3 separate regions of the Homo sapiens genome follow, and regions 1 and 3 are each linked to region 2. Evidence: fine-mapped expression QTL. A gene starts in region 2. Each other region holds a variant in brackets. All regions are shown on one strand. Distances are between the middles of the regions.

Region 1 (2,500 bases), 580 kb after region 2:
TATTATACAGTGGTTAAGACCATAGGTTTGGAATCGTAGTTTGTGTTTAGATCCCAGTATACTTTACTTACGAGCTTTTTGATGGTGGGCAAGTAATTTGACTGCTCTAAGTCTCCATTCTCGTGATCTGTGAGGTAAGATGATAAAGAAATATACCTCACCAGGTGGCTGTGAAGGTTACCTGAGTATAAAGCTTTCAAAGGGCACTGGCAAATAATACAGCTTAGTGTATATTAGTTATTATCATTAAGTAACTTAATCACATTCACACATTAGCAAGGAGAAGAGCTGGGACTTGAACCTATGACCTTTGGTTGTTTTTGAGATGAAGTCTCGCTCTTGTCCCCCAGGCAAGAGTGCAATGGCGCAATCTCGGCTCACTGCAACCTCTGCCTCCTGGGTTCAAGCGATTCTCTTGCCTCAGCCTCCCGAGTAACTGGGATTACAGGCACCTGCCACCATGCCTGGCTAATTTTTTTGTATTTTTAGTAGGGGCGGGGTTTCACCATGTTGGCCAGGCTGGTCTCGAACTCCTGACCTCAGGTGATCCGCCCGCCTCGGCCTCCCAAAGTGCTGGGATTACAGGCATGAGCCACCGTGCCCGGCAGAACCTGTGACTTTTAACTCCAGCTTCTACCTTGTTATTTTTCCAAAATACTAGGAATTTCCTTCTTTCTCTTCTCTATGGCAAGTGGCTGCTACATTAAGTTGTTAGTGAAGGGGATGGGTTTTGGAATAAAAGACTTGGGGATTCTGTGAGAACATTTGACCTCCTGGAATAAATCAGCAAATTACTTAAAAATGTAGAAACACACTCCTTATTATTAAGAGCTACTTGGTTCTAACCCAAACTGAACTTAAAAACATCCCCTACTCTGACTCACATTATTAGTATATGAATACTTTTGGATGTACCAGTTATGTGATGTATCCACTGTCCTTAGTAGGGGATTAAGGATAGATGTTGGGTTCCCACATTATAAGCCCCCTTGCTCCCCTCAACCTTTCCTTGCATGGACCTGGTGAGAGTGAGGGGTGGAGCTCATAGGCTCATTGGGGAACAAACCATGGTCTC[A/G]TCTGCACTGTCTTCTAAGCAAATCAGTTAGATTAAAAGCAAAAGAACAAATTAGCTTGAGATACTTACTGAATTTGGATTGCCCCTTGAAGTGTTTACATTTATTTCCATCCTGCCTCTTCTCTTCCAGGGATCCCTGCTATAGCTTTTTGGACAGCCTAGGTAAGCATGGTGGCTGCTGTGGGTGCCCACCACTACACATCTTTCACGTTTGCCTGCAGGGGTCCTCAGTGCTGCACCATAGATTATGTCTATGTGGACACCTTCACTTGTTTAAATGTTCACTTCTCTGATTATAAAAATAATAATACCTGACCTTTACATAGTGCTTGACAGGTTACAAAGCATACTTGTATACATAAATGATTCTGAGGGATATTTAGAGGTTATTATTTCTGCTTTACATGAGAAAATATAGATCTGAAAGGTGAAATGAATTACCTCCAGAGAGGGGACAAGTATGAGAAGTAGTTAGGACTTGAACATTCCAAATCTGGTGCTCTTTTTACAGTACCTACAGTGATATCTTCTCCCAGAAATGAATTAATGTGTTGGCTAGTTAATAGCTTCTCACATTCTACAAAAGATTTGAGGGGTCTTGAAATAATAAAATATGGGTGGAAATAGAAACCAAACCAGGGAGAACACACAATATCCAGAACCACTAGGATTAATATTGTTCCTACAGTTGAATTTAATTTGTCTTTGAGCTTCCTGGCAGCCAAGATAAAAAGAGGCACAATCAGTTACATATTTCTTATTAGAAAAGGAAAAACATGCTACAGAGAAGTGGAGATTTTACTAGGATTGTATTCAAAATAATTGTTTTGCTTGAGGCCATAGATAAGGAGCAATAAGAATAAATGAAGATAATGCTCTCAACAAAAATTTGTAGCTACTCAATAACATAAAAATGCATTGCAAGGGGGCTAACATTTGCTGGGTGCCTATTATGTGTCTGGCACTCTACTAGTGCATATTTTATTTTATTCTGCATATTTTATTTTATTTAACCCTCATGAACATTTAATGATCACAACTATCTTTTAAAGGTATCATTGTGACCATTTAATGATAAGGAAACTCATCCTCAAATAATTTAAACTATTTCTTCAAGGTCACGTAGCTAGTAAGGAGTAAGCCAGCAATTGAGATCCAGACCTTGTCTGATTCTACAGCCTGTGTCCTCACCATTCTATTCATGCTGCCTATAATGTGTTAGAGACATAAATTAACTAAATGCAAGTATATATAATCTTCTAGTGTTTCTACTTTATCCAAGGATATGTTTTACAGGACCCAGATTATAGGTTGGTCTTCTGTAAACATCATTTCTCTCATCTAGGCTTCAGTAGGAGGTGAGTTGTAGAAAAGCTCATGTAGTGGTGCTGCTTGAGAGTGTTTCCCCAGAGTGTTAACTGTGGC
Region 2 (2,852 bases):
TCTAACATTTTGCATTATTTTTATTAACCTAATGACACTATACTTTCTGAAAAGAAATTGTCACCATTGGCTGGGCGCGGTGACTCACGCCTGTAATCAATCCCAGCACTTTGGGAGGCCGAGGCGGGCGTATCACGAGGTCAGGAGATGGAGACCATCCTGGCCAACATGATGAAACCCCGTCTCTACTAAAAATACAAAAATTAGCTGGGAGTGGTGGCGCGTGCCTGTAATGCCAGCTACTCGGGAGGCTGAGGGAGGAGAATCACTTGAACCAGGGGGTCGGAGGTTGCAGTGGGCCGAGATTGCCACTGCACTCCAGCCTGGCAACAGAGCGAGCCTCCGTCTCAAAAAAAAAAAAAGAAAAAAAGAAAAAGAAAAAAGAAACAAAAAACAAAAGAAAAAGAAATTGTCACCATTAATTTTATTTTATTTATTTATTTATTTATTTTGAGACAGAGTCTCTGTCTGTCGCCCAGGCTAGAGTGCAGTGGTGCGATATCGGCTTACTGCCACCTCCGCCTCCCGGGTTCAAGTGATTCTCCTGCCTCAACCTCCCGAGTAGCTGGGATTACAGGTACCCGCCACCACGCCCCGCTAATTTTTTGTATTTGTAGTAGAGACTGGGTTTCCCCATGTTGGCCAGGCTGGTTTTGCACTCCTGACCTCAAGTGATCCACCCACTTCGGCCTCCCAAAGTGCTTAGGATTATGGGCATGAGCCACCGCGCCCAGCCATGTCACCATTAATTTTAGCAACGTATCAAAAGTTCAGCTTCCAACTACCTACATTAAAAGGTATAATAATACTAACCCTGAACCTTACATATGTAATGCCTAAAAACTTACACCCTGAATTACTCTAACATTACAGGGCAGACTTCCTTGAGAAGAGTCAGACCCTGCAGCGGGGCTCTGCCTTCCCACTGTCAGCCTCGGGGTCATCTAGCTTTATCGATCCCCATGGAGCGGGTCACCGAGCCCTGTGAGCAGGGAGAGGGCGATGGGGATGAGTAAACCCGAGCCGGAGGCCCGGCCTGCGCTCTCGCCCGGAAACCTCCCGTGGGATTCTGGAGTCCAGCGGCGCTGCCTGAGGCTGTGGTACCCAGAAATATGGTATTGGGGGTGGGGGTGAAATGAGAGGAAAGCAATCTGATTAACTTCCAGCCTGATAAGCAGAAAAGAGAAAACAAGGGAGCAGGAAAACTACGCTAGCACTAGACTGCCGGTCGCAAGCGCCGGGTACACACGCAGTTAAACCTCAATGGAACGCCCCCGGGACTTCTCCGGGGCGTAAAGCGCAGCGCCCTCTATTGGCCATCGGGACCTCGCCTGGAGGTGCCGTCAGGATTCCGTCCCCCAGCCACTCCCAGGCACTCGAGAGTAAGCGCATTAGCCCGAGAAAGCGTTCTGTGGAACGGAACTTCCTTATCCTATCGTTTCCACACGGAAAGATTTTAATTCACCGGAATCGACTGGCGTTAAAGGGCACAGTGAAAAGGAAGTTGGTATCAACGTGATCTCGACTAAGGGACCGAGCGGAAGTCCTCAATCGTACGCCACGCGGAGAGCATGCTGGGGGCCGGAAGGAAGAGGAAATTCCAGTAGCCGATCAGGAGTCTGCAAACTCCGGTGGTAGGGGAGCGCGCTGCTGTTTAGAGCCACGAGTTACCGGAGCGCCTGATTCCTGCGCCGAAGTCAGTGGTGGCCGAAAGTCCGGAGTCGCTGTAAAACCTGAGATTGTGAGCCATGGTGGGGAGATCCCGGCGGCGCGGAGCAGCTAAGTGGGCAGCTGTGCGAGCCAAGGCAGGTCCCACGCTCACCGACGAAAATGGAGATGATTTAGGATTGCCACCCTCACCAGGGGACACCAGCTACTACCAAGATCAGGTAGATGACTTTCATGAGGCACGATCCCGGGCCGCCTTAGCTAAGGGCTGGAATGAAGTACAGAGTGGAGACGAGGAGGATGGCGAGGAGGAGGAGGAGGAGGTGCTAGCCCTAGATATGGACGATGAGGACGACGAAGATGGAGGGAATGCGGGGGAGGAGGAGGAGGAGGAGAATGCCGATGATGATGGTGGGAGCTCCGTGCAAAGTGAAGCTGAGGCCTCTGTGGATCCCAGTTTGTCGTGGGGTCAGAGGAAAAAACTTTACTATGACACGGACTATGGTTCCAAGTCCCGAGGCCGGCAGAGTCAACAGGAGGCAGAGGAGGAGGAAAGAGAGGAGGAGGAGGAGGCACAGATCATTCAGCGGCGCCTAGCCCAAGCGCTGCAAGAGGATGATTTTGGTGTCGCCTGGGTTGAGGCCTTTGCAAAACCAGTGCCTCAGGTAGATGAGGCTGAGACACGGGTCGTGAAGGATTTGGCTAAAGTTTCAGTGAAAGAGAAGCTGAAAATGTTGCGAAAGGAATCACCAGAACTCTTGGAGCTGATAGAAGACCTGAAAGTCAAGTTGACAGAGGTTAAGGATGAGCTGGAGCCATTGTTAGAGTTGGTGGAACAAGGGATCATTCCACCCGGAAAAGGAAGCCAATACTTGAGGACCAAGTACAACCTCTACTTGAATTATTGCTCGAACATCAGTTTTTATTTGATCCTGAAAGCTAGGAGAGTCCCAGCACATGGACATCCTGTCATAGAAAGGCTTGTTACCTACCGAAATTTGATCAACAAGCTGTCCGTTGTGGATCAGAAGCTGTCCTCAGAAATTCGTCATCTGTTGACACTTAAGGATGATGCTGTAAAGAAAGAACTGATTCCAAAAGCAAAATCCACCAAGCCCAAACCAAAGTCTGTTTCAAAGACTTCTGCTGCTGCCTGTGCTGTTACAGATCTTTCTGATGATTCT
Region 3 (2,852 bases), 43 kb after region 2:
GCCACTGCACCCAGCCAAAATATGTGCTTTTCTATTAACCTTCTTTTAGGGATAAGGAGTCTGACATTGAGAGGTGATGCACAGATGATCAGTTGAATGCAATAAAATATACATCTGGCCTGATTAGTTACTTTCCGCTAGGAATTATTTACTCCAAGTGTTAAAAATGTATTCTCTCATTTAATTTTTACAACAACCTTTTGAGCCTAGGTACAACTATTACCCCCAATTTACAAATAAACTGACATTTGGCCAGGCGCGGTGGCTCACACTTGTAATCCCAGCACTTTGGGAGGCTGAGGCGGGTGGATCACCTGAGGTCAGGAGTTCAAGACTAGCCTGGCCAACATGGTGTACTAAAAATACAAAAAAAAAAAAAAAGATTAGCTGGGCGTGGTGGCAGGTGCCTGTAATCCCAACTACTTGGGAGACTGAGGCAGGAGAATCACTTGAACCTGGGAGACAGAGGTTGCAGTGAGCCGAGATTGCACCACCGCACTCACTCCAGCCTGGGCGACAAGAGTGAAACTCCATCTCAAAAATTAAAAAAAGTAAAATAAGCTGACATTCAAGGGTGTAATAACCGGTAGAGGCAGGATTCAAACTCAGACTACCAATGGTTCAACCCATACACAACACTCCTGTCCCAGAATTCTAGAGTGTAAGTCCAACAATAGGCCTGCGTGTAATAAGAGGAGTCTTCTTCCCAGTCTCTGATGACATATTTGCAGAAGTTTTATACACAATTGAACACAGCATTGGCAGCTTAAGTACAGTCAGCATGCAGATAAGGCCAAAAGCATCCCAGCTGGGACATGCTTGGTGATTGCCATCTTTTTTTTTTTTTTTTTGAGACGGAGTCTCGCTCTTGTCCAGGCTGGAGTGCAGCTGCGCGATTTCGGCTCACTGCAACCTCCGCCTCCTGGGTTCAAACAATTCTCCTGCCTTAGGCTCCTGAGTAGCTGGGATTACAGGTGCCCGCCACCATGCCCGGCTAATTTTTGTACTTTAGTAAAGAAGGGGTTTCATCATGTTGGCCTAGGCTTGTCTTGAACTCTTGACCTCAGGTGATCTGTCCACCTTGGCCTCCCAAAGTGCTGGGATTACAGGCGTGAGCCACCAAGCCTGGCCAGTGATTGCCATCTTTTAAAGTGGAGACTGAGTTTTTTGTCCACATGTTTTCTTTTTCCTCTTTTCACTCACTTTTATAAAGTAAATGAAAATATTTACATAATCGTGCATATACTACCAAACAGCAAAAATAGTACACTGCTGAAACTGACCTGGCTGGCAAGTGACACCTCTATATGCTAAATTTAGCTTTCTGAAGCAGATGTACAAAAGCAATAAGAAAAGCAGTTTTGTTTTGTTTTTGTTTTGAGACAGAGTTTCGTTCTGTTGCCCAGTCTGGAGTGCAGTGGCGCAGTCTCGGCTCACTGCAACCTCTGCCTCCCAGGTTCAAGTGATTCTCCTGCCTCAGCCTCCTGAGTAGCTGGGACTATAAATGTGCACCACCATGCCCGGCTAATTTTTGTATTTTTAGTGCAGACAGGGTTTTGCCATGTTGGCCAGGCTGGTCTTGAACTCTTGGGCTCAAGCGATCACCCGCCTCAGCCTCTGAAAGTACTGGGATTACAGGCATGA[G/A]CCACCGCACTTAGCCTGAAAAGCAGTTTGTGATAGCAGTAATGTTCACGATTATGGATTGTTTGAAATAGTAGCTACAGGTAATCATTATTCTTTTAGCCAAGCATTCTCATGCCCTTCTTTGGATGATTTTTTCAATGTTTTTTCAAACTCCTTTTCAACATACTTACCTGTTCCAGTCAGACTGTGCTTCAGTAAAATCCTGATTATTCTTTTTGTTTTACTATTCTGACTTGTGATTCTTCATGCCCGTGTTATATCAGGAAGGGTAATGGACCCCTGACTCCCTTCATCTACAAGTCCTTCTCTAACAGATCTCACACCTTTCATGTCCTGAATCACTGGTTAGCATCTGGGACATTTGTTTGAATATGCTAGAAATCATTCCCCAGTTATTTAATTCATGGGATTCCTTATTTCTGAAATTATATAGAAAGTTCTTCAGGGCAAACCTTTTCTTTGGCGTTCTTCAGAAGGCCCCATGGTACTGTGTACTATTTATCGTAGATATCCAACAAACTTCTGGTGAACTCAGTGATTCCCTATTACTCCATAAAATCATTTTAAAAGAAAGGATTTGCATGTTACTGTAAAGACACATGCACACGTATGTTTATTGCGGCACTATTCATAGTAGCAAAGACTTGGAACCAACCCAGATATCCATCAATAATACACTGGATAAAGAAAATGTGGCACATATACACCATGGAATACTATGCAGCCATAAAACAGGATGTGTTCATGTCCTTTGCAAGGACATGGATGAAGCTGGAAACCATCATTCTGAGCAAGCTATCACAAGGACAAAAAACCAAACACCGCATGTTCTCACTCATAAGTGGGAGTCAAACAATGAGAACACATGGATACAGGGAAGGGAACATCACACACTGGGGACCTGTCGGTGGGTAGGGGGCTGGGGGGAGGGATAGCATTAGGAGAAATACCTAATATAAATGACGAGTTGATGGGTGCAGCAAACCAACATGGCACATGTATACCTATGTAACAAACCTGCACGTTTTGCACATGTACTCCGGAACTTAAAGTATTAAAAAAAATAAAAAGCCAGGTGCAGTGGCGGGCGCCTGTAATCCCAGCTATGTGGGAGGCCGAGGCAGGAGAATCACTTGAACTCGGGAGGCGGAGGTTGCAGTGAGCCAAGATCGCGCCACTGCACTCTAACCTGGGCAACAGAGTGAGAC

Which allele goes with the higher level. Positions count from the first base shown, and alleles are read on the strand shown. Sizes are in standard deviations (SD) of each study's normalised expression. Not every link is listed here.
With allele G in place of A in region 1, the expression in iPS cells of the gene that starts at base 1,603 in region 2 is lower (moderate effect, 0.67 SD a copy in HipSci).

Evidence for each region. PIP is the estimated chance that this variant, and not a neighbour inherited with it, causes the effect. A credible set is the group of variants that fine-mapping cannot tell apart.
Region 1: its variant is the best candidate, but not a certain one, in a credible set for the expression of UTP3 in iPS cells (HipSci, PIP 0.71).
Region 3: its variant is the best candidate, but not a certain one, in a credible set for the expression of UTP3 in whole blood (INTERVAL, PIP 0.65).

The regions. Positions count from the first base shown.
Region 1 is chr4:71,269,783-71,272,282 of GRCh38, forward strand. All of the region lies in intron 3 of SLC4A4 (solute carrier family 4 member 4), which reads left to right. Among named protein-coding and RNA genes, the nearest start is that of SLC4A4, 84 kb to the left of the region's middle. The variant A/G (reference allele first, on the strand shown) is at 1,076.
Region 2 is chr4:70,686,930-70,689,781 of GRCh38, forward strand. UTP3 (UTP3 small subunit processome component) reads left to right here and starts at 1,603. Exons shown (of 1, transcript NM_020368.3): 1 at 1,603-2,852. The coding sequence starts at 1,749. RefSeq lists enhancers at 528-1,498, 879-968, 1,499-2,467, 1,669-1,728.
Region 3 is chr4:70,730,207-70,733,058 of GRCh38, forward strand. The region is part of intron 1 of RUFY3 (RUN and FYVE domain containing 3); the gene reads left to right. Among named protein-coding and RNA genes, the nearest start is that of RUFY3, 9.7 kb to the left of the region's middle. RefSeq lists an enhancer at 1,212-1,461. The variant G/A (reference allele first, on the strand shown) is at 1,645.